7 linked regions of the Homo sapiens genome follow. The protein of the gene in region 5 purifies or fractionates together with the protein of the main gene of each other region. This does not show direct contact. Each region holds a gene or a part of one and is shown on either strand. Other genes may lie near its edges. The genes, in order: PRRC2C, EIF2S3, EIF4E, NCAPD2, ATG4B, GLUD1 and DCP1A.

Evidence for each region.
Region 1: the proteins of ATG4B (region 5) and PRRC2C purify together in Homo sapiens (affinity purification with mass spectrometry; one large-scale study listed by BioGRID and IntAct). This does not show direct contact.
Region 2: the proteins of ATG4B (region 5) and EIF2S3 purify together in Homo sapiens (affinity purification with mass spectrometry; one large-scale study listed by BioGRID and IntAct). This does not show direct contact.
Region 3: the proteins of ATG4B (region 5) and EIF4E purify together in Homo sapiens (affinity purification with mass spectrometry; one large-scale study listed by BioGRID and IntAct). This does not show direct contact.
Region 4: the proteins of ATG4B (region 5) and NCAPD2 purify together in Homo sapiens (affinity purification with mass spectrometry; one large-scale study listed by BioGRID and IntAct). This does not show direct contact.
Region 6: the proteins of ATG4B (region 5) and GLUD1 purify together in Homo sapiens (affinity purification with mass spectrometry; one large-scale study listed by BioGRID and IntAct). This does not show direct contact.
Region 7: the proteins of ATG4B (region 5) and DCP1A purify together in Homo sapiens (affinity purification with mass spectrometry; one large-scale study listed by BioGRID and IntAct). This does not show direct contact.

What each region holds. Positions count from the first base shown.
Region 1 is NC_000001.11:171,492,030-171,495,529, forward strand, and holds part of PRRC2C (protein PRRC2C), read left to right. Parts: intron 1-3,500. UniProt on the Homo sapiens protein: Required for efficient formation of stress granules.
Region 2 is NC_000023.11:24,071,956-24,075,455, reverse strand, and holds part of EIF2S3 (eukaryotic translation initiation factor 2 subunit 3), read right to left. Parts: intron 2,366-3,500; coding exon 2,193-2,365; intron 1-2,192. UniProt on the Homo sapiens protein: Member of the eIF2 complex that functions in the early steps of protein synthesis by forming a ternary complex with GTP and initiator tRNA.
Region 3 is NC_000004.12:98,922,634-98,926,133, forward strand, and holds part of EIF4E (eukaryotic translation initiation factor 4E), read right to left. Parts: intron 1-3,500. UniProt on the Homo sapiens protein: Acts in the cytoplasm to initiate and regulate protein synthesis and is required in the nucleus for export of a subset of mRNAs from the nucleus to the cytoplasm which promotes processes such as RNA capping, processing and splicing.
Region 4 is NC_000012.12:6,521,602-6,525,101, reverse strand, and holds part of NCAPD2 (condensin complex subunit 1), read right to left. Parts: intron 3,305-3,500; coding exon 3,065-3,304; intron 2,275-3,064; coding exon 2,100-2,274; intron 1,841-2,099; coding exon 1,756-1,840; intron 1-1,755. UniProt on the Homo sapiens protein: Regulatory subunit of the condensin complex, a complex required for conversion of interphase chromatin into mitotic-like condense chromosomes.
Region 5 is NC_000002.12:241,661,693-241,665,192, reverse strand, and holds part of ATG4B (cysteine protease ATG4B), read right to left. Parts: intron 1-3,500. UniProt on the Homo sapiens protein: Cysteine protease that plays a key role in autophagy by mediating both proteolytic activation and delipidation of ATG8 family proteins. Required for canonical autophagy (macroautophagy), non-canonical autophagy as well as for mitophagy.
Region 6 is NC_000010.11:87,070,844-87,074,343, forward strand, and holds part of GLUD1 (glutamate dehydrogenase 1, mitochondrial isoform a precursor), read right to left. Parts: intron 1-3,500. UniProt on the Homo sapiens protein: Mitochondrial glutamate dehydrogenase that catalyzes the conversion of L-glutamate into alpha-ketoglutarate. Plays a key role in glutamine anaplerosis by producing alpha-ketoglutarate, an important intermediate in the tricarboxylic acid cycle.
Region 7 is NC_000003.12:53,309,544-53,313,043, reverse strand, and holds part of DCP1A (mRNA-decapping enzyme 1A), read left to right. Parts: intron 1-664; coding exon 665-803; intron 804-3,500. UniProt on the Homo sapiens protein: Necessary for the degradation of mRNAs, both in normal mRNA turnover and in nonsense-mediated mRNA decay. Removes the 7-methyl guanine cap structure from mRNA molecules, yielding a 5'-phosphorylated mRNA fragment and 7m-GDP.

The sequences.
Region 1 (3,500 bases), on a different chromosome or scaffold from region 5:
TTTTGAAAACAGAGGACATTGAAAACAAAGGAGGCTTTAGACAGGTGAATTTTAAGTTTATATTTGGAAATTTGATTTGTGGTGTACAGTTCTTTAAGTTTTAGTACGTATGGATTTTTGTAGCCCCCACAACTAGGATACAGAATGTAGAAAGATAAAACATCTCCCAACTGTAGAACTAGAGTCTTCTGGCATTTTGGAGACAGGGAAATTCTCTTGAAGAAATAACTATTAAAGAGGGATGGAAAAAGCCAAGAATGGCCTACCCATGCTGAATGATTTGTTTTCTGATTAGAAAGAAAAAATATTTTGATTATACTGTTATATTTATGACAAACTTGAACATAGAAAGAATGAAAGTAGGAGAAAGAAAAAGAAGGAGTTGGGTGTTGTGGCATGTGCCTGTGGTCTTAGCTACTTGGAAGGCTGAGGTGGAAGGATCTCTTGAGCCCAGGAGTTGTGGAGGGTAGCGCACTGTGTTCTACATATGGACTGAGTGTCTGCACTAAATTCAGCATCAATAGGGTGTCCTGGGAGTGGGGGACTAACAGGTTGCCTGAGGAGGGGTGAACTGGTCCAGGTTGGCAACAGAGCAGGTTAAAACTCCCATGCTGATCAGTAGTGGGATAGCCATTGCACTCCGGCCTGGACAACATTAAGGTGACCCTGTTTCTTATTAAAAGCAAGAGGGTAGGGGAATTTTTTTAATTTTATTTATTTATTTATTTATTTATTTATTTAGAGACAGAGTCTCTCTCTGTCGCCCAGGCTGGAGGCAGTGGTGCGATCTTGGCTCACTGCAACCTCTGCCTCCCAGGTTCAAGCAATTCTTCTGCCTCAGCAGCCCGAGTAGCTGGGATTACAGGTGTGTACCAGCACACCTGGCTAATCTTTGTATTTTTAGTAGAGATGGGGTTTCACCGTGTTGGCCAGGCTGGTCCTGAACTGACCTCAAATGATCCACCTGCCTCGCCCTCCCAAAGTGCTGGGATTACAAGGCGTGAGCCACTGCGCCTGGCCGGGGAATTTAAATAAAATAAAATAAAATAATAAAAGAAGAGAAGGAAGGAAATAGGTTTACATGTCTTAAGACTGGATATTTCAGTGGTAGAAGAAGAGGGCCAATGATACGGAGGGATGTTAACCAATTCTCTACACTTAATAAATTTAAAATTAATATTCTGACTTTTAAAGGCAACCCTTTGGTCCTCCAAAAGATTAACCATAATTCATAATGCTAGATGAGCATCTTGGAGCAAGTACTTCTCTTTCACTCTCATAACATTCAACATACTTTGGCCTTGCAAAAAACAAAGTTCAATTAACTGGATGGGGTGGCATGTACTTGTAGTCCTAGCTCCTCAGAAGGGTGAGGTAGGAGGATCACTTGAGCTCAAGTTCAGGGTTGCAAAGTGATGGCACTGCTGCACTCCAGCATGGGTGACAGAGTAAAACTGTTGAAAAGGAAAATAATAAATAAAGGTTGACTAAGAAATTATCTATGCTTTGGGCCTGAAGCGATGGCTCACCCTGTAATCCCAGCACTTTGGGAGGCCAAGGTGGGTGGATTACTTGAGGTCAGGAATTTGACACCAGCCTGGCCAACATGGTGAAACCCCATCTCTACTAAAAATACAAAAATTAGTCAGTTGTGGTGGCAGGCGCCTGTAACCCCAGCTACTCAGGAGGCTGAGGCTGGAGAATTGCTTGAGCCTGGGAGGCGGAGATCCTACCACTGCACTCTAGCCTGGGCAACAGAGCAAGACTCTGTCTCAAAAAAAAAGAGAAGAAATTATCTATGCTTGGGTTTTTCTTTTTAATATATTAGTTTTGCAAATATTGATTACCACTTAATAAGTTTTTGTTACAGGCTTTACACTATTCTAAGAGCTTTATACACACTTTGTTAATTAAATCTTATAATAGTATTGGAGTAGATATTATAGCCCACCCAGGTGAGGAAGTAAAAAATTTGAGATTAAGTAATTTGCCTGTGGTCACCTAGCTACTAAATATTAGAGCTAGAATTTAAACAAAAACAGTTTTAAGAGAAACAGTTGTGTAATTTTAACAATTTTAAAATACATAAGTTGTTAAAAAGAATGCCCTGGCAATCACCTCATTAAGTAATCGGTAGACAGAACAGCTGTACTTTTTAAGGACAGCAGTTTTTAGTACAGAAAATTTGATAGCTACATTTCTGTTCTGATTGTTAAGGCTTTATCCTACTCCGGAAACTTAATTCACATGTTTCAGTTTCCAGGAACAGCCTGAGCCCTTCCACTATCCTGATTAGAACTCCAGCAGATTTATTTATATTACACTTTGTTTTTTAAAAAATGACCATTTTGGATGTTTTTGCCGAACTGCTATTTGTAGTAAAAGAATTCAACATATGGTGGTATTCTTAGCTTTACTATTATAGTGGCAAATGTACTCTTAAAATATTTGACCTTAGAATTACTAGTTCATTTTAACTACTAGAAATGGAAGAGACCTTGTAAGTGGCCAATTCAACTTCTTACTCAAAGCAAGAATTATCTTTATAATATTTCTGACAGGCTTACCTTGCTTTTGCTTGGATCCATCTGATGATTAGTAGGTTACTACAGTCACCCCTTAACATTCACAAAGCATATGTCCTAAGATCTTACAAATTTCCGTATTTAGCATTCAAACCTCTTCACTTTCGCCTTCCGTGATCTACACTAGGATTTGGCCTCCTCTTCACTGCTCTTCCCCACCCTGCCCCCCTCCCTCAAGAAAGAAACAGATTTCTCTTTGTAAGAGTTATTGTATCCCCTAAAAGAAAACAAAGCTCTGGGCCTGGGGTCTCAGCATTAGGAGTGGTGAGGGATATCCAAGCTTATTTTCTAGATGCATACCTCATGGCATGTTAGTTACATTTTGTGCTTTAGCAAAATTACACGTCATTTCACAGCTCTTTGGGTTATTTGGCAAATTGTTAAAGTAATGCTATAAGTTTTAGTTTAATGTAACTTACTCACTTATGGATAAACTGAACAGTTTTTCCTTTGCATTCAGTCGTTTGTTAATGTTTGTCTTCATGAAGCCTGGAGTTGAGCATAATACTCTAAACATACTGTGACAAACATAAAATTCAGTGGAACTGTTATGACTCCAAATCTGTGCATTAGATTTCTATTAAAATTTTATAAAGCAGTATTGTCACACTACTAGCTGTCACAGCTAGAACCTTTTTCACATGACAGTCTGGGTCTGTATTCTGCATTTATGAAATCCAGTTTCTGAACTGTTAATATGACTGTATAACTAATTGTTTAATTCTGCCTAGCATTCTAAGACCTTTAAAAATCTTGGTCATGGAATACATTGGTACTCCTTCAGATGTATATATTATTTCATATGCCATGTTTACTTTCCAAGTCTTTATTCAAGTTATTGACATGGAAAAGGACAGGGTCCAACATATCCAGGCCAAATTATTTCATATTGACCACATTCTTTTAAATATAAAA
Region 2 (3,500 bases), on a different chromosome or scaffold from region 5:
GTGGTATGGACTGTGATGAGGTGACGAGGAATGGAAAGCAAGGGGCAAACTCAATAACCTGGGAAAGAGCAAAAAGTCAGGAGCCAAAAATGTGTGTATGCTTCCTGGCTCTATGCTCTCAAAAGACCTAGAAGCAACAGCACCCTAAGAGCCATGAGCACACCTGAACACTCAGCTTTTCATTTATAAGAGAAATGGCCAGTTCTAAAACTGGAACAGAGAAGGTACAAGATGAGTCTGGAAGATTTTGTGCCAGAAAATAAGGAAATGTTCCAAAAAAAAGAAGAAAGAGGTCAGGCGTGGTGGCTCATGCCTGTAATCCCAGCACTTTGGGAGGCCAAGGAGGGCGGATCACCTGAGGTCGGGGGTTAAAGACCAGGCTGGCCAACGTGGTGAAACCCCGTCTCTACTGAAAATACAAAAATTAGCCGGGTGTGGTGGCGTGTGCCTGTAGTCCCAGCTACTCGGGAGGCTGAGGCAGGAGAATTGCTTGAACCTGGGAGGCAGAGGTTGCAGTGAGCTGAGATCATGCCACTGCATTCTACCCCGGCGACAAAGCAAGACTCCATCTCAAAAAAAAAAAAAAAAAAAAAGAAGAAGAAAAAAAAATGATGAGTACATGTCAAAAGGACACAAGAGCCAGCCTGAAGGACCTCCACTGGCCAAACGTCGAACAATGCACATCAAAATAAAGGAAGACAGTGATGGATCATAACATGTTGAATAAAATAGGACTCCATGAGTCCATATTATAACTAGATAGGGAAATAAATAATGGCAAAGAAAGAATGCCAAATGATAAATGTGGGGTGGTAGAGTTGAGGGAGGATACTGCAACCCGTAGAGGTGCTATGATTTTGTAATCATTATAGTCAAGTTCGATTCAGGCAAGAATCATCAGTGGATGCTACATCCAGGGGTGTGGGATTCAATGATCAGCAGGCTATTTGTACTGGCTAGAAAGATCTCCCTACAGATTGCTTATTAGTTGCAAGGGTAGAGAGTAACTACACAGCAGAGAAGCTGGACAACATCTTGACTACATAGTCAAAACTAACCTTAACAAAGAGGAGCAGTCAGATATCATGTGCCTCTAGCTGTGATTCCTGAAAAGGAGACTTCACGGTGTATTTAAGTTAAGAATATATAACTGAATCTAATGTTAGGCTTCCGAATGATAAGAAAAACCCAAATTGAGGAATATTCTATAAAGTAACTAGTTTGTATTCTTCAGAACTGTTAATGTCAATTAAGACAAAGGCTGAAAAAGCTCCAGATTAAAGATCAAAGAGACATGAAATTAAATGCAATTCAAGATTCTAAACAGGAGGAACATAAAGTACATTATTGGGACAAGTAATAAAACTGAAACATGCACTGTAGATTTCAGTATTTTGCCAATGTTAAATTTCTAAGTGGTTACATAAGAATATCCTTTTTTGATGGGAAATATACACTGAAGTATTAAGAGATCAAGAAGCATAACATATATAGCCTACACTCAAATGGTTCAGAAAAAAACTTATATATGTAAATAAATCTGTATGTGTGTTTGTCAATCTAGGAAAAAGCTATAGAGGAGTTTTCTGTAAAACTCTTACAATTTTTCTATTAAGTGTGAAATGATTTCCAAAGCCAATGACGATAGAAATACCGAACCCAAATTCATTTGGTTTTGCATAGGTTGTGTCTAACAGGAAGAGAAGCCAATCACAGTATTTGGACTAAAATATGGGACTATAGTCAAGGTTGTAGTTTTTTCTGAGACGGAGTCTCGCTCTGTCGCCCAGGCTGGAGTGCAGTGGCGCCATCTCGGCTCACTGCAAGCTCCGACTCCCAGGTTCACGCCATTCTCCTGCCTCAGCCTCCCGAGTAGCTGGGACTACAGGCGCCCGCCACCACGCCCGGCTAATTTTTTGTATTTTTTAGTAGAGACGGGGTTTCACCATGTTAGCCAGGATGGTCTTGATCTCCTGACCTCATGATCCACCCGCCTAGGCCTCCCAAAGTGCTGGGATTACAGGCGTGAGCCACCGCACCCGGCCGAAGTATAGTTTTCAAAGTCATCCAAATAAATAGTTGAGACTGAAAGCCACAGTAACTGTTGTCCTCAAGGAAGATTGTGTGCTTTTTTTTCTGTACAAGACTGTGTCTTTTTTTAATTAGACAGTGGCAAAGACTAACAAACTTACCGCCAGTGTTTTTCAACTCTTCGGCTAAGGGCAATTTTTTCTCCTACCTCTGTGCACACTGGATTGGTCAAAACAATTTTACCCAAATCGGCCTTGACAGCACTAACTCTCCCTCCTGTTGACAGGGATCCTATGTTCACCATGAGCACTTCATTCTTAGACAGCTTTTGAACCTAGAAAAATAAATTAGGGAAAAATAAACCCCAAAATCAAGAAAATGCTTTCCAAATGTAAGTAAGAATTTACCAAATACTATTGGGAAATATGTCAATCATAAAAAAAATTCTATAGAAATTTCATTGTAAAGGAATTTGAACTATATATAGTATAGTTTATTTGGCACCCACTGAATTTACACAAGATCTACCTTTAAAAAATAGGGTAGTAACCGTACCAGAGTACCTCTTAAAATTCTGAAGCAGTTACCTAGTACAAATGAGGTACAAAATTTCCCAAAGAGGGGAGCATGAAGGACTATGGCTATATAAGAGTTAATATGGGCCAGGCGCAGTGGCACACGCCTGTAATCCCAGCACATTGGGAGGCCGAGGAAGGCAGATCACCTGAGTGGGGGGAAAAAAAAGCATGATAGCTTATTTTCCTCAATCTTTGCCAACACTAGGTGTCAGCAATTTCCCATCTCTGCCAACCTAATCTGGGACATTTTTTAAAAATCATGAAGCTGGGCGCAGTGGATCACACCTGTTAATCCCAGCATTTTCGGAGGCTGGGGTGGGCAGATTGCTCAAGCCCAGGAGTTGGAGATCAGCCTGGGTAATGCGGCAAAACTCCGTCTCTACAAAAAATACAAAATTAGCCAGGCGTGGTGACCCACACCTGTAGTCCCAGCAACTCAGGAGGTTAAGGTGGGAGGATGGCTTGAGCTGGGAGATCGAGGCTGCTGTGAGTCGAGATCGCACCACTGCACTCCAGCCTGGGCAACAGAGCAAGACTCTGTCTCAAAATAAACAACAAAACAAAAATATGGATTTTAGGAATATCATGTCTTTGTCATAAATGGCTAATACTTTTCCCTGTTTATTAAGTTTCTTTCTTAAACTAACTGCCATATAGTTCTCAATTTTGGCCGGACGCAGTGGCTCATGCCTGTAATCTCAGCACTTTGGGAGGCCAAGGCGGGCGGATCACTTGAGGTCAGGAGGTCAAGTCCAGCCTGGCTAACATATAGTGAAACCCCATCTCTACTAAAATATACAAAAATTAGCTGGGCGTGCTGGTGCGTGCCTGTAGTCCCATATACTTGGGAAACCGAGGCAAGAGAATTGCTTGAACCCAGGAGGTGGAGGT
Region 3 (3,500 bases), on a different chromosome or scaffold from region 5:
TGTAGCAATTACAAATAACGATCTTTCTACATTAAAAATAGCTGTTACAAACAAGGTATGTTTATAAGGTTTTTTTAGTTAGTTGCTTACAACTATAAATCCATATCCTTAATTCCATATCCCTATAAATCCAATGCTGGTTAGATTTGTAATGATTCCACAAAAATTTACTGAATATAGTGTGACTAAACTTCATTTTCCTGTTTTTTCTTTTTTCTTTTTTTTTTTTTTTGAGAAGGAGTTTCAGTCTTGTTGCCCAGGCTGGAGTGCGATGGCAGACATAGGCTCACCGCAACCTCCACCTCCCAGGTTCAAACGATTCTTCTGCCTCAGCCTCCCAAGAAGCTGGGGTTACAGGCATGTGCCACCATACCCAGCTAATTTTGTAATTTTGTTAAGTAGAGACAGGGTTTCTCCATGCTGGTCAGGCTGGTCTCGAACTCCCGACCTCAGGTGATCCGCCCACCTCAGCCTCCCAAAGTGTCGGGATTACAGGCGTGAGCCACCACGCCCGGCCCATTTTCCTACTGTTTCTATGGAATAATGTATCAAAAGTTCCAACTGGGGAAACAAAAAAAAAAAAACCCCTTATATTTCTGACCACATTCTCAGGTTCCAGAAGTGCCCAGAAATGACTATTAGTATTTTAGACACACACACACACACGCAAAATCATTTTCTTTTTCTTTTTTTTTTTGGTGAGATAGGGTCTCTTTCTGTCACCCAGGCTGGAATGCAGTGGTGTGATCACAGCTCACTGCAGCTCTGACCTCCCAGGCTCAGGGGATCCTCCCATTTCAGCCTCCTGAGGCTAGGACACAGGTGTGCACCACCATATTCAGCTAATTTTTTAATTTTTTGGAGAGACAGGGTCTCGCCATGTTGGCCAGGCTGGTCTCAAACTCCGGGCTCAAGTGATCCTCCTGCCTTTGTCTCCCAAAGCCTCGGATTACATGTGTGGGCCACCAAGCCCAGCCCCTTTCTTTTTCTGGAGACATGATTAGGGACTTTTGAAGGAACACTAGTGATTTTTATGGTAGGGATAGGAGTGGGAAGAACATCTTAGGATTGTGAATCACAGGCTTTGCATTTCTTGCTAATGGCTAAGGATTGATAATTAAAAAGCAGCAATGTGAATTTCCAAGAAAAGAGGGAAAATAGTATGTAAATGCATGGATATACATGAGTATAAAACATTCATGGAATGTCAACTTTAGTCCCTTACAGTTGACAAACTGTCACCTTTGAATACTGCATTTAAAAATTGAAATCACCGTAATATATCTTATTCCGACTTTCAGCTGACTTAGAAATTTCAGTCTTCAAGATCACTCAGATATTAAGATGAGACTATAACCCATGCTCATTTCCACTTCTCAAAAAAGTCTCTATGACTAAGATGGTGCAACTCACCGGTACTAATAGATTAAGGAAACTTCTTTTGTTTATTTTTTTTTTTTTTGAGACGGAGTCTCGCTCTGTCACCCAGGTTGGAGTGCAGTGGCACAATCTCAGCTCACTACAACCTCCGCCTCCCAGGTTCAAGAGCTTCTCCTGCCTCAGCCTCCTGAGTACCTTGGGATTACAAGCACGCATCACCACGCCCAGCTAAGTTTTGTATTTTTAGTAGAGGTGGGGTTTCACCATGTTGATCAGGCTGGTCTCAAACTACTGACCTGGTGATCTACCCACCTCGGCCTCCCAAAGTGCTGGGATTACAGGCATGAGCCACCGCACCCGGCCCATATTCTTAACTTTATGTAAATTAAACAATATTTTACTTAAATGTTTTTTGCCTACAGTTTTCTGTCCAAACTAGAGTAAGCTTACATAATTCATTTTGCATATTATCCCTCTGCAACTTCTGTGTATAAACTGTGTGTCTACATTGAATTTCTCTAAGTCTAATAATCATGCTCATTAACTCAGATTATAAAATGAAGTGTGAAATTTGTTTCTGTTTTTTTTTTTATTCTTTTTGATGGAGTCTTGCTCTGTCGCCCAGGCTGAAGTACAGTGGTACCATCTCGGTTCACTGCAACCTCCACCTCCAGGTTCAAGCGATTCTCCTGCCTTGGCCTCCCCAGTAGCTGGGATTACAGGCGCCTGCCACCAGGCCTGGCTAATTTTTGTATTTTTAGTAGAGACAGGGTTTCACCATTTTGGCCAGGCTGGTCTCGAACACCTGACCTCAAGTGATCCCCACCCGCCTCGGCCTCCCAAAGTGCTGAGATTACAGGCGTGAGCCACCGCACTCAGCAAGTATATTTTTTTCTTTTAATTGAAGAAATCTGGAATATGAACCCCAGAGCCAAATTTACGTGGATTATCGAGGAACTCTGATATAGTGGGTTCTTTCATTAAGCAAAAAGTCCACTAATTTGCATAGTCTGGTTGGCATTCAATTGTTCATTAATATGAATTATATAGTACAACAAATATTTGTCAATATGTATATAAACCTTATTTACTCTTATTAATAAGCTGTGTAGTACAGAGCATGTTTCCAAAGTATAAAAAAGGAAGCATTAAATTAGCTGATTGTCCAAGTTGATTCACTTATGAAATTAGCGTGGTTTCAAAAAATTCAAGAGCTACAATGTAAAAACAAGTAAAATTATACACTTTCAGTTAAGCTAAAGAAATCAAAATTAATCTCTTACCTCAAAAGGAACTACAAGTCAAAAAAAAATTTTTTTAATTCTAATAATGAACGATGTAGAATGAAGATAAAGCTACAAAGAAACACGACCTACTGGAGGTAAGATGGCCTTGCCATTTTCACAGACTAATATTAAACCTAATTTTGACCCAGCCACAATTCAAATGCCGATAGAATAACATCAGAGTACCGTTTGCCCTAACGTTCAAATTTTTGCCAAATTATCCGTTAAGAGGTAAAATGTTTCCCTTAATTTTCCCTTTCAAGCTTCTCAACAAATTTAATATTTGTGGGCCACATCTTCATGTAACTCAACTCATACAAAGAGAAAACCACACAATAATATCAAACTGAAAATGATATTTTATGTAATGTCCATAGACAAAAATCATCCAGATACCTATGCATGATGGGATAAGCAGGAAAAGCCCATGGCTCTTTTTAAGTGTTTATGATTATGCACAGCAGAAAACCATTATGGAAGCTCACAAACTAGCTGAAGTAAGAAAAAACATGATTTTTGCAGCCTTCAGCAGGGGTATCTCAAGTACAATCCAATTCTAATCAGTTGCTTCAAAAAAAAATCCAGGCGAGGCTCGGTGGCTCACGCCTGTAACCCAACATATTGAGAGGCCAAGGTGGGAGGACCACTTGAGTCCAGGAGTTTGAGACCAGCCTGGGTAACCATCGCGAGATTCCATCTCTACAAAAAGTTTAAAAATTATCCGGGCGTGGTGGCCTGCTCCTGTAGTGCTTGCTACACCAGAGGCTGAGATGGAAGCATCTCTTGAGCCCAGGAGTTTGAGGCTGCAGTGAGCTATGATCGCGCCACTGCACT
Region 4 (3,500 bases), on a different chromosome or scaffold from region 5:
TTCTCCAATCCTCAAGTCCAGCCCCTCGTTACTGCCCACTGCAGCAGCCTCCACGGGCCTTCCTTCCCATGGGTTGGTCTCCTCAGCCTCTGCTTCCCCACGTCCCTTCTGTTGCACCCCAGTTTGCAGGTGCTCTCCCCTGCCTCTTGTAGGGCTTTTGCCGGTAACTGACCTATGACATCATGGCCAATCACCACCACCAGGCTCTTTTCTTTTCCCCAGTGAGGAGAAAAATGTGGCTGGCAGGAGCACGCTTCCCAGCGCCACCTCCACTCTCTGTGCCCGCAATGCAAATGCTACAAAGCAGAATGTCTCACTAAAATGCTGGGTGCCTGGCTAACACAGTTAAAGTCCTAGACTCCTGAAGTCATTCAGGGACTTCCACAGTTTAGTTCCAACCTACATTCACAACTTTATTATCTTTTCCAGATTTTTTTTTTTTTTTTTTTTTTTGAGACAGAGTCTCCCTCTGTCGCCCAGGCTGGAGTGCAGTGGCGCAATCTCGGCTCACTGCTACCTCCACCTCCTGGGTTCAAGCAACTGTCCTGCCTCAGCCTCCCAAGTAGCTGGGACTACAGGTGCCCACCACCACACCTGGCTAATTTTTTTGTATTTTTAGTAAAGGTGGGGTTTCGCCATGTTGACCAGGCTGGTCTCGAACTCCTGACCTCAGACCTCAGGTAATCTGCTGCCTTGGCCTCCCAAAGTGCTGGGATTACAGACGTGAGCCATCGCGCCTGGTCTTTTCCAGATAATTTGAACCAGAACACAGTCTTCTTTGTTCTACAATGTGAACTGTGCTCTTTCTTGGGTTCTGTTTGAAATGCCCTCCCTCCTTGCTCTGATTCTCTAAATCCTACTCATCTTTCAAGACCCAGCTTAAGTCCTACCACCTTCAGGAAGCTTCCTTGACCATTCTACCCCAAACCGCTCTCTTTCCTACTCTGTATCCCTCAGTAGAACACAGAAGTTAAGAGTATGTTTTCTAGAGCTCTTATTGCCTGAGTTTGAATCTCAAACTTTGCCACTAACTAGCTGTAACCAGCCAAGTTCAGTAACTTCTCTGTGCCTCAGATTTCTCATTGTAAAATGCAGATAATGCTACCTCACAGGGCTGTCGTGAGGATTAAACAAGTTACTGTGAGTAACGTGTGAGTGCCTGTCATATATTCAATACCATATAAGTGAGGTTGTTATTATTGCTATGACAACCATTACCCGTACAACTCATTCTGGCACTTTATTATCTACCTGCTGCATTGTTCTAAAAATGTTCTGTGGTTTTTCACTACCAACTAGACTGTTGGTTCCTTTAAAGTTGGGAACATGAAAGCAAATAGTCTTATACTTCTTTCTGGAGCTAAGTAAATTGCTAAATACATAGTAATAACTCAATAATACTTGTTGCCGGGCGCTTTGGCTCACGCCTGTAATCCCAGCACTCTGGGAGGTTGAGGCGGGTGGATCACGAGGTCAAGGGTTCGAGACCAGCTCGGCCAACATGGTGAAACCCCGTCTCTACTAAAGATACAAAAAACTAGTCGGGCATGGTGGCACATGCATGTAATTCCAGTTACTCGGGAGGCTGAGGCAGGAGAATTGCTTGAACCTGGGAGGCGGAGGTTGCAGTGAGCCAAGATTGTGCCATTGCACTCCAGCCTGGGCAATGGGGCATGACTCCGTCTCAAAAAAAAAAAAAAAAACAACCAAAATACTTGTTGAATGAATAAAGAAAGAGAAAGCAGGAAGCCTTACAATTTCCTCAAGACACTGAATGGTCCCAACCGAGGCATCCACTAGCAGCAGAGAGAGATTCTGAATCAAAGCCTGGGCCTTGGCTCTGTGGGAACAGCAGAGATCAGCGGTCACTATAAGATTGGGAAGCTGAACTTGGCAAACAGTGATTAGGGCTATCCCACCACAGTGCTACAAAACTGCTCTCCCTGGAAACCGAGCCCCACCCTAAGCCCCACTATGATGGACTGCCTATGGATCTGGAACTCCCCTGGAGAAATGCACCTCTTCCTTTAGGAGACAAGGGAAGTCCTGTGAGAAGCTGACCTTGGAAAAGTCAGCAAAGGCAAAAGCACCCCATATACCTGGCAGAGTCCCCTTTGGGGTTGAGGTAGAGTTGGCGGTAGGCATTAAGCACGGCTTCCCGGACACCAGGCTCCTTAGACCAGATGAGAGGCAGCATACGGCGCACCCCAAACAGGGCCTGGGGTACCCCAAATTGGAAGACCATCACAAAGAATTCAATCACCTCCTGCACCACTGAGAGAACATGTACAAATGTCACCTATCTACTTCACAAAACTCCCCCAATACCTAACGACAGAACCTTTCTGAATGTAGCAAGATGCAAATGGAGGCCTTCCGCATTTTCCCTGAGAATGTCGACTCCTCCTATGATGCCTTATCATGAAATACTATATGCATTAAAATGTATAAGCTGTAAGTGGCTAGAGGAAGCAAACAGAAAAAAAGAACCCCTGCCTTTTTTTTTTCTTTTCTTAAGACACAGGTTCTTATTCTGTTGCTCCGGCTAGAGTGCAGTGGCATGACCACAGCTCACTGTAGCCTCAAACTCCCGGGCTCAAGCAATCCTCCTGCCCAGCCTTCCGAGTAGCTGGAACTACAGGTGCGTGCCATCACGCCCAGTTAGTTTTTGTTTCTTTGTAGAGATGGGGTCTTGCTATGTTGCCCAGGCTGCTCTCGAACTCCTGGCCTCAACCTGTCTTCCTGCTTTGGCCTCCCAGTTTTGTAGGGATTACAGGCATGAGCCATCGCGCCCAGCCGAGAACCCCTGCCTTTTAAAGGAGCAGATAGATATATCAATAAAATATGGAAAAGAACTCCAAGATCCATGGCCGGGTGCAGTGGCTCACACCTGTAATACCAGCACTTTGGGAGGCTGACGCAGAAGAATTGCCTGAGCCCAGGAGTTGGAGACCAGCCTGAGCAACAAAGGAAGGCCCCATCTCTATTGTTAATAAAAATTTAAAAAATTAAAAAATCCAAAAGAACCCCAAGGCTGTCCTTATAGAAAGGGACTCTGGCATACCTGTAGTTGTGTTTTCATACATCATCTTGCTGATGATGCCAATGGCCTCTGTAATCTTCCGGGAGAAGCTGTAGGCATCCTGCAGATACTGTACCAGCATCTCCTGCTTCACTAGTTCATCATTTCCCCTGGATTCCTCAGGATCCGACATATTGGGTTTATTTTTACAGACAGTCTGTCCTGTGACCATGTTTCCTGTAGACTCCCGGGGATTCTTTTCTTGTGTGGAAGCTGCTGGGCCTAAGGAGTTAGAGAAGTACAGGATGGTTTCGTTCAAGGGGATACAGGGGAATCCAACAGCTGTCAACATTCCTGGATATTTACTTATTTATTTTCCTTCTTCTTTTCTTTTGAGATGGGGTCTCACTCTGTTGCCTAGGCTGTGCAGTGGCAATGATCACCGCTCACTGCAGCCTCAACTTCCCCGGGCTAAGGT
Region 5 (3,500 bases):
TAGGACTCAAATTTCTCAAAACAGACAGCTGGAAAACAAGGATTCTGAGACAGAACTTTTTAAATTTCTTTTAGAGACGGGGTCTCACTCTGTCACCCAGGCTGCAGTGCAGTGGTGCAACCACAGCTCACTGCAGCCTCAAACACCTGCACTTAAGCAATCCTCCCGCCTCAGCCTCCCGAGTAGCTGGAACAACAGGTGTGGGCCACTGTGCCCCCTGACTTTTCTTTTTTGAAGCCGATTCTCTGTTGTCCAGGCTGGAGTGCAGTGGCATAATCTCGGTTCACTGCAACCTCCGCCTTCTGGGCTCAAGCAATTCTCCTGCCTCAGCCTCCCCAGTAGCTGGGATTACAGGTGTGTGTCACCACGCCCAGCTAATTTTTGTATTTTTAGTAGAGACGGGGTTTTGCCACATTGGCCGGGCTGGTCTCGAACTCCTGACCTCAAGTGATCTGCTCACCTCAGCCTCCCGAAGTGCTGAGATTACAGACATGAGCCATGTGCCTGGCCTCATTTTTCTATTTCTTATAGAGAGGGAGTTGTCCAGGTTGGTCTCAAGCAATCCTCCAACTCAGCCTCCCTGAGAGGTGCGATTATGGGTAGGAGCTACCACGCCCAGCCTTAAGGGAGTTGTTTGGGTTTCTGTTTGGTTTTTGAGACAGGGTCTTACTGTGTCACCCAGGCTGGAGTGAAGTGGTGCAATCATGTCTCACTGCAGCCTCAACCTCCCAGGCTCATGGGATCCTCCCACCTCAGACTCCCGAGTAGGTGGGACTACAGGTACATGCCCCCATGTCCGGCTAGTTTTTTTGTTTTGTTTTTTTGTAGAGATGAGGTTTTACCATGTTACCTAGGCGGCTGGTCTCAAACTCCTGGACTCAAGCAATCTGCCTGCCTCCACCTCCCAAAGTGCTAGGATTACAGGCGGGAGCCACAGTGCTTAGCCAAGGGAGGGATTTTAACTTTGATTTTTTTAAAACATATATGTTATTGCTTCAAAGAGCCAGTTCTAGTATGTGTTAGTTCTAATAAATTTAATTTTAAAATTTATTTTTAAAATATTTTATAGAATGAGGTCCAGGCACGGTGGCTCACGCCTGTAATCCCAGCACTCTGGGAGGCCAAGGTGGGCAGATCATGAGGTCAGGAGATCAAGACCATCCTGGCCAACATGGTGAAATATGGTGAAACCCCATCTCCACTAAAATACAAAAAATTAGCCAGGCGTGGTGGCATGCACCTGTAGTCTCAGCTACTCAGGAGGCTGAGGCAGGGGAATCACTTGAACCTGGGCAGCGGAAATTGCAGTGAGCCAAGATCGTGCCACCACTGCACTCCAGCCTGGCGACAGAGCAGAACTGTTCCAAAAAAAAAAAAAAAATAGACGTCTGGCTATGTTGCCCAGGCTGGTCTTGAATTCCTGGCTTTAAGCAATCCTCCTGCCTCAGCCTCACAAAGTGCTGGGATTACAAACATGAGCCACTACACCTGGCCTAATACATTTCTTCCTTTAAATCATTAATTTCTGTATTTGTCTTTAATATTATTCTTTGGTTTCTTCAGTTAATTTTGCTTTTTCCGAATTCTTGAGTTGTATGCTTATTTCATTAATTTTCACTTTGTAAAGAACCCATATACTAGTACTGAAGATACACAGGTTTTCTTCTGAGTTCTGTACACATCAGGTTCAGATACATAGTTACGGTCTCTACACTTGACTTTTTTGAGGTTTCACATTTCCAGGCAGCAGGGTTTTGTCCTTTTTTCATTTTATTCCGCATTAGTTTCATAGAAATTCCCAGGCACACTCTGCTGTCACAATCTAGGGTTTGACACGTATCTACTAAACTCTGCCTGTTGTGTTATCTGGGTCCCCTGTAGCTTTGATCTTTCCATAGCTAATCTGTTAATTATTCTGTTTTCTATATATTTTTATTATTTTTTGTTGTTTTGGTTTTTTGAGACACAGTCTTACTGTGTCACACAGGCTGGAGTGCAGTGGCATGATCTCAGCTCACTGTAGCCTCTGCCTCCCAGGTTCAAGCAATTCTCGTGCCTCAGCTTCCCGAGCAGCTGGGATTACGAGGGCGTGCCACCATGCCCAGCTAACTTTTTTTTTAGTAGACATGGGGTTTTACGATGTTGACCAGGCTGGTCTTTAACTCCTGACCTCATGTGATCTACCCACCTTGGCCTCCCGAAGTGCTGGGATTATAGGCGTGAGCCACCGCGCCCGGCCCGCTTTATTGGTTTTGAAGTTGGGATTATAGGCGTGAGCCACCATGCCCGGCCCGCTTTATTGATTTTGAAGTTGGGATTATAGGCGTGAGCCACCGCGCCCGGCCCACTTTATTGGTTTTGAAGTTGGGATTATAGGCGTGAGCCACCGCGCCCGGCCCGCTTTATTGATTTTGAAGTTGGGATTATAGGCGTGAGCCACCATGCCCGGCCCACTTTACTGATTTTGAAGTTATGTTTTGATAGAAAGGCTTCCCGGTGGTGAGTTTCCTGCTGACTGGTGCTTTGTTACCTGCACAGACCCTACTGTCTCAGGAATATGATCGAACACATGAATCGGCTCAAGGGCTGATGCGTAGCTGGGCCGGTTGCTTCTGTGCCTCCAGAGCCCAGCACTGAGTGTGTGACCTACCACGTCACAAACACCCTGCTGTCAACAGGGTGCAACGGGCTTTTGCCTATTCCTGCCACCACCTGAAATTTTCTCGTGTTCTCTTTATATTTTGAACACATTTAAAATTTATATTTCTCTATCAATGACAACTACACAGTACACATACCTACTCTCACCTCATGAAGCCAGGTCTTTTCTCAGAATTCTAAACATTTTCCAGTAGCATTTGGTATGGCACAAAGATGAGATGCCCAGGCCAGTTGAGACTGCCTTTCTTCAAAGCAGCTTAGTAGTGATACTATTATTTGGATGTTTAGAGAAGTTTCCCTTTACTTCTGCAATTTGGAAATATTATCAGGAACATGTATGTTTAAGTACTTCTGATAAAAAAATTTGGGGGTCTTTAGCTCTAAAGACTCAACTCTCACCAACTCAGGGGAATTTTCTCCTACTCCTTCAGTGGCCAACTCTCCCGAAAAGTTCTAATCCACATACTCTGCTCTCAGCTGCCTCTATTTGGCTGCACTGCCTCTCAGAGAGTTGAGTTCCAGCTATTGTGATTCTCCTCCCCACTCTGTTTCTGACTGTGCTTGCTCTGGTATTTACTTTTCTTTCATTGGAGTCATTTGTCCTCACTGCCAGACTGACACGTTTTCCAATCTGTATTTCCTCCCTACATTCAGTGACATTCTGTCTACTGTCGTTAGAAAGGTCTAAGCCCATCAACGTTAAGGACAAGAAGAGCATGCTAAGGATGTCCTGGCTGGCCTTTGACTGGGGGTGGACAGAAGGATGAGTTGCGGGGGGGATGGGTTGGTGGATGGGGACACTGTAGGCAGTAAGGTCTCCCCTTACCCCACAGGCTTCA
Region 6 (3,500 bases), on a different chromosome or scaffold from region 5:
CCTGAGGCCGGGTGCGGTGCTCATGCCTGTAATCCTAGCACTTTGGGAGGCCGAGGTGAGTGGATCACAAGGTCAGGAGATCGAGACCATCCTGGCTAACACAGTGAAACCCTGTCTCTACTAAAAATACAAAAAATTAGCCGGGCGTGGTGGCGGGCGCCTGTAGTCCCAGCTTCTTGGGAGGCTGAGGCAGGAGAATGGCGTGAACCCGGGAGGCGGAGCTTGCAGTGAGCTGAGATCGTGCCACTACACTCCAGCCTGGGTGACACAGCAAGACTCTGTCTCAAAACAAAAACAAAAACAAAAAACAAGTAGTTCCTGAATAACAGATATATTCTTTTTGTTTTTTTTTAATTTTTATGTTTTGAGAAGGAGTTACACTCTTGCTGCCCAGGCTGGAGTACAATGGCATGATCTCGGCTCACTGCAACCTCCGCCTTCCAGGTTCAAGCAATTCTCCTGCCTCAGCCTCCTGAGTAGCTGGGATTACAGGTACCTGCCTGGCTAATTTTTTTTTATTTTTAGTAGAGACGGGGTTTTACCATGTTGGCCAGGCTGGTCTCGAACTCCTGACCTCAGGTGATCCACCCGCCTCAGCCTCCCAAAGTGCTGGGATTACAGGCATGAGCCACCATGCTTGGCCTAACAGATAAATTCTTATATAGAGAACAGGTATGAGGCAGAAGTTAATCTTTTTTAAAAAAGCAACTTTTCTAACAGCATGTGACTATAGAGTAGGAGATGAAAGGGTAATTTTGGTACACAGAGATATAAGGGGATGAGAAGGGTGGAGACATCAGGGTCCTGCAGAACTTAGGTGATATTTACACTCACACAAGAGAATGAACATTGACCTTTCAAAAGCTTTTCCAAAAGCAGAAGAGGAAGGAACACTCCTCAACTCATTCCATGAGGCTAGAATTGTCCTGATACAAAGACTAGACAAAGACATCATAAGAAAACTATAGACCAATGTCACTTACAATAGCATTAAAAGGAGTAAAATATTTAGTTGTAAGACTTCTATGTAAGACTTCTACAATGAGAACTACAAAACATCATTGAAAGAAATCAAGAGACCTAAATAAATGGAAAGACATCTCATATTCAGCATTGGAAGGCTTAATATGGTTAAGATGGCAATACTGGTCAGGTGCAGTGGCTCATGCCTATAATCCCAGAATTTTGGGAAGCTGAGGTGGGAAGACTGCTTGAGCTCAGGAGTTTGAGACCAGTCTGGGATACGTGATGAGACCGTGTCTCCACAAAAAATTAAAAAATTAGCTAGGCACAGTTGCACACCCCTGTGGTTCTAGCTACTTGGGAGGGTGAGGTGAGAGGATTGCTTGAGCCCAGGAGGTCAAGGTTGCAGTGACTGCTGTCTGGTACTCCAGCCTGGGTGAAAGGACAAAACCTTTTTGGGGAGGGTGGGGAAGATGGCAATACTCCACAAATTAGTGTACAGATTCAATGAAATTCCTATAAAAATCCCAGCCTCTTTTTTTCTTTTGTTTTGCAGAAATTTACAAGCTGATGCTAAACACACATGTGACAGGATCAGGGTTCAGGCTCAGGTCTGAGCCTCAATCTGACACTCTCTGTGGAATGGGCAGTCAGGAAATAACAGATAAATAACATCAAATTTGAAGGTTTGCCGAGGAGTGAGAGAAAAAACTCCCTTTGCCTACCTCCTAGGCTTCAAAGCTTTCTGGGCCAAGACGTCAATTTAACTGCATCCTGGGTCAATGAGGCTTTTGCACATTAAGCAAATAAATCAAATTACTAGAGTTTAAGCTGTGTTTTCTTTCAGTATTCCAATGAATCACTTTTTGACCTTTGGAATTATTAGGTACTTGTCAAGTCTGATAAAATTAAGCTGGAGATATTGCAGATATGGGTGACAAATATGACTGAATAAAGTCTGAAACCATTCAAGACTATAAAATGTGTTTGAGATTTAGGGGAAGAGGAAAGACCTTTTAAAAATTATGAAGGCTATTAACAGGCTGAAGATGACTTCAATTCACCATATCTCAGAATCAGTAGGCACTCCTATAAAAGTGTGAGCGAGATAGTTAACTCATATTAACTTACGTTAACAGACTCCATGTAAGGATGCACAAGTTCACAGTAGTGCTGGGTATGCGGCACATCAAAGGCCCAAATGCCTTTTATTATCAAAGACAGGCCAAATCTAGTCAAGTTTTAGAGTTACCTATACTTACTGTATTTCTATATTAGGTTATTTCATGACATTTATTTCATGACTTTTTTTTCCTAAAAATGAATCCGAATAGCTTTATTTCATTTCTCTTTCTTCTTGAGATGTGGTCTCGTTTTGTTGCTCAGGCCAGAGTGTGGCAGGCCAGAGTGCAGTGGCACAATCATAGCTCACTGCAGCCTCAACCCCCCAGGCTTAAGGGATCCTCCCATCTTAGTAGTTGGGACCACAGGCATGCACCATCACGCTTGGATAATGTTTTCATTTTTTGTAGAGATGGGGTCTTGTAATATTGCCCAGGGTGGTCTCGAACTTCTGGGCTCAAGTGATCCTCCCACCTCAGCCTCCAAAAATGCTGGGATTACAAGCACCAGCCACCATGCCCAGCCTTTATAGTTTAATTTCATGGGAACTTGTGGGGGAAATGCTAAGAAAGGAAAGTAGAGAAAAATACACTTTATTTTCTATTTAAGTAGACCTTATTTTGTTTAACTATACTGATATTGATAGGACAAGTATTCTATTATTAAGTAACAATTAACATTCTTTTTTTTTTTTTTTTTTTTTTTTTTGAGACGGAGTCTCGCTCTGTTGCCCAGGCTGGGGTGTAGTGGCGTGATCTTGGCTCACTGGAAGCTCTGCTTCCCAGGTTCACACCATTCTCCTGTCTCAGCCTCCTGAGTAGCTGGGACTACAGGCACTCGCGACCACGCCTGGCAAATTTTTTGTGTTTTTAGTAGAGATGGGATTCCTACTAAACCCCGTTAGCCAGAATGGTCTCGATCTGACCTCGTGATCCACCTGCCTCGGCCTCTCAAAGTGCTGGGATTACAGGTGTGAGCCACCACGCTCGGCAGTAAGTATTAACATTCTATTAACTATACTGATAGGGCAAGCATTCTATTAAGTAGTTATGCATATTCTATTCAAACAAATTAGAAGCCTTCTAGATTAAAAAAAATATAGGTTTAAACTGCTTGAAAATTAAAGGGTACATGACAAATACTTACATATCATAAAAAGAATATTCAGATTGTGCACAAAGAAAATATAAACACAGATAATAGTAAGATACAAAAACATCAAGCAAACAAAGATTAATATCTTCAGAAATGTTGTATGTTTGGCAAAAGCTCCTATAACAAATAGTAGGAGGCCGGGCACAGTGGCTCCTATCTGTAATACCAGCAGTTTGGGAGTCCGAGATGGGTGGATCACCTGATGTCAGGAGTTCAAGCCCAGCCTGACCAACATGGCAAAGCCCCATCTCCAGTAAAAA
Region 7 (3,500 bases), on a different chromosome or scaffold from region 5:
GGTGGAACTGTCAGTTTTCATATTTACTTTAGCAATTAGTTTGACTGATTTTGAAATACTTCAAGGGAAAAAGGGAGAAACCTTAGTGGAGTTTGTAATGCATCTCTGCCAACTCTAGGAAGGAATTCTGTATTTTTATCCTTCTGAAGGGTAAATATTGGCACTGTTAATGAGACGGTGAAATGGTAAGTCATTTATTTCTGAAATGAGGTAACTGAAGTTCTGTGTTATATATTGCAAGAATAATGTAATCGGCTGGGCGCGGTGGCTCAGGCCTGTAATCCCAGCACTTGGGGAGGCCTAGGGCAGATCACGAGGTCAGGAGATTGAGACCATCCTGGCTAACACGGTGAAACCCCATCTCTACTAAAAATACAAAACATTAGCCGGGTGTGGTGGTGGGCGCTGTAGTCCCAGCTACTCCGGAGGCTGAGGCAGGAGGATGGTGTGAACCCAGGAGGTGGAGTTTGCAGTGAGCCGAGATCACACCACTGCACTCCAGCCTGGGCGACAGTGCGAGACTCCATCTCAAAAAAAAAAAAAAAAAAGAAGAATGTCATCATGTGACACTCTTAGTGTATCCTTGGAAGATGAACACCAAAAGAAATCTTGGGTCAGATTTTGTTTCAAGAGGCCTTTCTAAAACCTTGTTCTTCTCCTCTAGTGTGGTAGAAGAGGAGACACGGCGATCCCAGCAAGCTGCTCGGGACAAACAGAGTCCCAGCCAGGCCAATGGCTGCAGCGACCACAGGCCCATCGACATCCTGGAGATGCTGAGCAGAGCCAAGGATGAGTATGAGAGGGTGAGGCTCTCTGGGTACTTGGGTGCTGACCAGGGAAGACCAAAACGGGAGGAGGAGGTCTGCAGGAGACTATTTTACTAGGGAAGCTGGCCTCCAGGGACGGCAGAAATATAAGTTCAAAAAGAGAGCGTGTTAGCACACTCCTGTAATCAGTCCCAGCTACTTGGCAGGCTGAGGAAGGAAGATCACTTGACTCCAGGAGTTGGAGGCTGCAGTGGGCTATGATTGTGCCACTCCACTCTAGTCTGGGCAACAGTGAGACCCTGTGTCTCTCTTTTTTTTTTTTTAAAACAGATGTGTCTTACAATTTTAAACCTAAAACATAAGGAAAGAACTTGCTTACCCCAGATTACTTGTTTTTGGCAGGAAAATTTACAATGCTTTTTTCTATTCCTATAAGATTACTATGGGAGAAGATGGTCTTGGAGTGCAGAAGTTAGCTCGCAGCAGCTAGTTCTGGTAAAGCTTCGTGCCTCTTCTTCACCACTGCAGTTTCTGTTAGGATCCTCAGTGGTCCTAGGAATTTGTTTAGGCTTTGAAAAGTATTCTGATAGTTTGTACCACATAATACTAAAAAATACACTCATGGTCTGTAATTGGTGGTAGATGCACAACCTTCATTAAGCTTCATTTGGAATTTTACCCAAATGAGAGGCTTTTCTGAAATTCACTGTTTTCTTTCTCTTCTGTTGTGCATTTTAGTTTATAAATTAGCTGATAAAATTTTCTCCCAAAAGTTGAATAAAATGGCAATTGTGGTACTTTCGTTAATTTATTCAATACCTGCTTATGAACCATCTACTATGTGCAAGCAGTGGGCATTTCATGGTTATGACTCTCCTGGAATTTTACTTGGCACCTCAAAGCCCCCACACTTCACTGGAGTGAGACAAGCTCTCTACTGCTGAACTTTGTTTTAGCAGAATTATACTGTCACCTTACTCTTCATTAAATATTGAATTAAGTGCTTTCCTTTCATGCCTATTTCACCTCACCAGAACTTCAAGGAACAAAATGTGAAAAAGCACTGTCCAAAAGACCCTGTTTCCCATACAGTTCTGCTATAATACCAGCTACTAAGTTATTAATCAGTGATCCTGAAAAAAGCTTCAAATTGGCAAAACGAGTTAAGGTACTGTTGTTAGCATGACTCTTCCTCCTCCCATCCTCTTGGGACTTTACAGAGCTCAAAACTGAGAGGTCCTGCAATAAGTAAAACAATAACACCAATTCCCAGATTGACTTGACTGCAGGACCATTTTTTGCATACTGCCCTTTAACAACTCAAGAATTTGGAGTTCAGGAAAAAGTTTGAAAAAAGTGTTCTGAAAGATAGTTTCTTCTGACTAAAAATAGGCATGTTCACCATAAACTACATAGACCTTCTACATTCTGATAACAAAGGAAGTCCCACCTCCAGGGTGGAGAAATGTACATGAGAGCCCATGAGAAGTTTCAAGTTTGTACCAAATTCTTCAATGTCTCACAGAGAATTAGGAGGAATGAATGGATCTATGGAAGTTAAATTTGGAGGAGCAGTCACCTCTCTAATAAATTAATCGATTCTTAGGAAACCAAATGAGAACTAACTTCAAGAATGGCTTTCTGATTTAGAAGTTACCTTACATTCCCCTCTTCTACCCTTGATGACAAGCGGATTTTCTACGTACATACTTTGTTCTGTTTGTAGAGCCCTTTCAGTGTTCTCATAGGTACCTAGTAAGTCCAGGGCTCTGTCACTCATCCTGAGTAATAACTGTATCAAGGTACCACACGGGACAGAAACTGTAGGTGCTGCGCACTAAAGCAGATACTCCAGTAAGTGGCCTGGCTTACTCAGGCTGAGAGGTTAAGTAGCCACAACGAGAAAGTAGGAAATAAGACATTAGCTTTGAACACAAAACTTTAAAGGAACTCTAGGGTCAGGTGGGCAATCTAAACATCTGACATTATTTTGAATTATATCAATATTACAAAAGGAATATAGATAGCATGATAGTTTCTGTTTTAAATAAACTTCTTTCACACTATGGAATAAAATATCGTCTATGGGTAGATTAAAATGAAACCCTTTGGGATTTGGTTAAATCTTTGATATTTACTTTATCATGTGTTCTTTCTGATTTTGAAAACTGTCTGCAATAGGTGGAGCTTCTTTGAATTAGAGTTTTGTTCTCTTATCTGCATTTGTCTATCATCTCATCAGATGGAGCTGGTATAAGCAGTGACCCATGAATTCATGGGTCTTGGTGTTTGGATGGGCTCCCTTCAGCTGCCACATTTTTTCAGACGGCCCCTTTGTTTATCTTTAGGTGAAGACTCAGAAGATTGGCAATCAAGGGCAGGGGTGCAAGCTAGGCCTCAGTGTTGGGATTTAATCCTGATTCTGAGTCTCCGCTATCTGCTGAGTATGATATAATGAACGAAATTTCAGACTTTTGAATGAGCACTTGTAATAATGAGACTCTTTTCTTTTTTCAGACAGGGTCTCTCTGTTGCCCAGGCTGGAGTGCAGGGGCACAATCTTGGCCCACTGCAGCCTCTACCTCCCAGGCTCAAGACATTCTCCCATCTTAGCCTCCCAATTAGCCACGACTATAGGCCATGCATCACCATGCTTGGATAATTTTGTTTATTTTTTGTAGAGATAGAGTCTCACTATGTTGCCCTGGCTGATCTTGACAAGCTCCTGGGCTC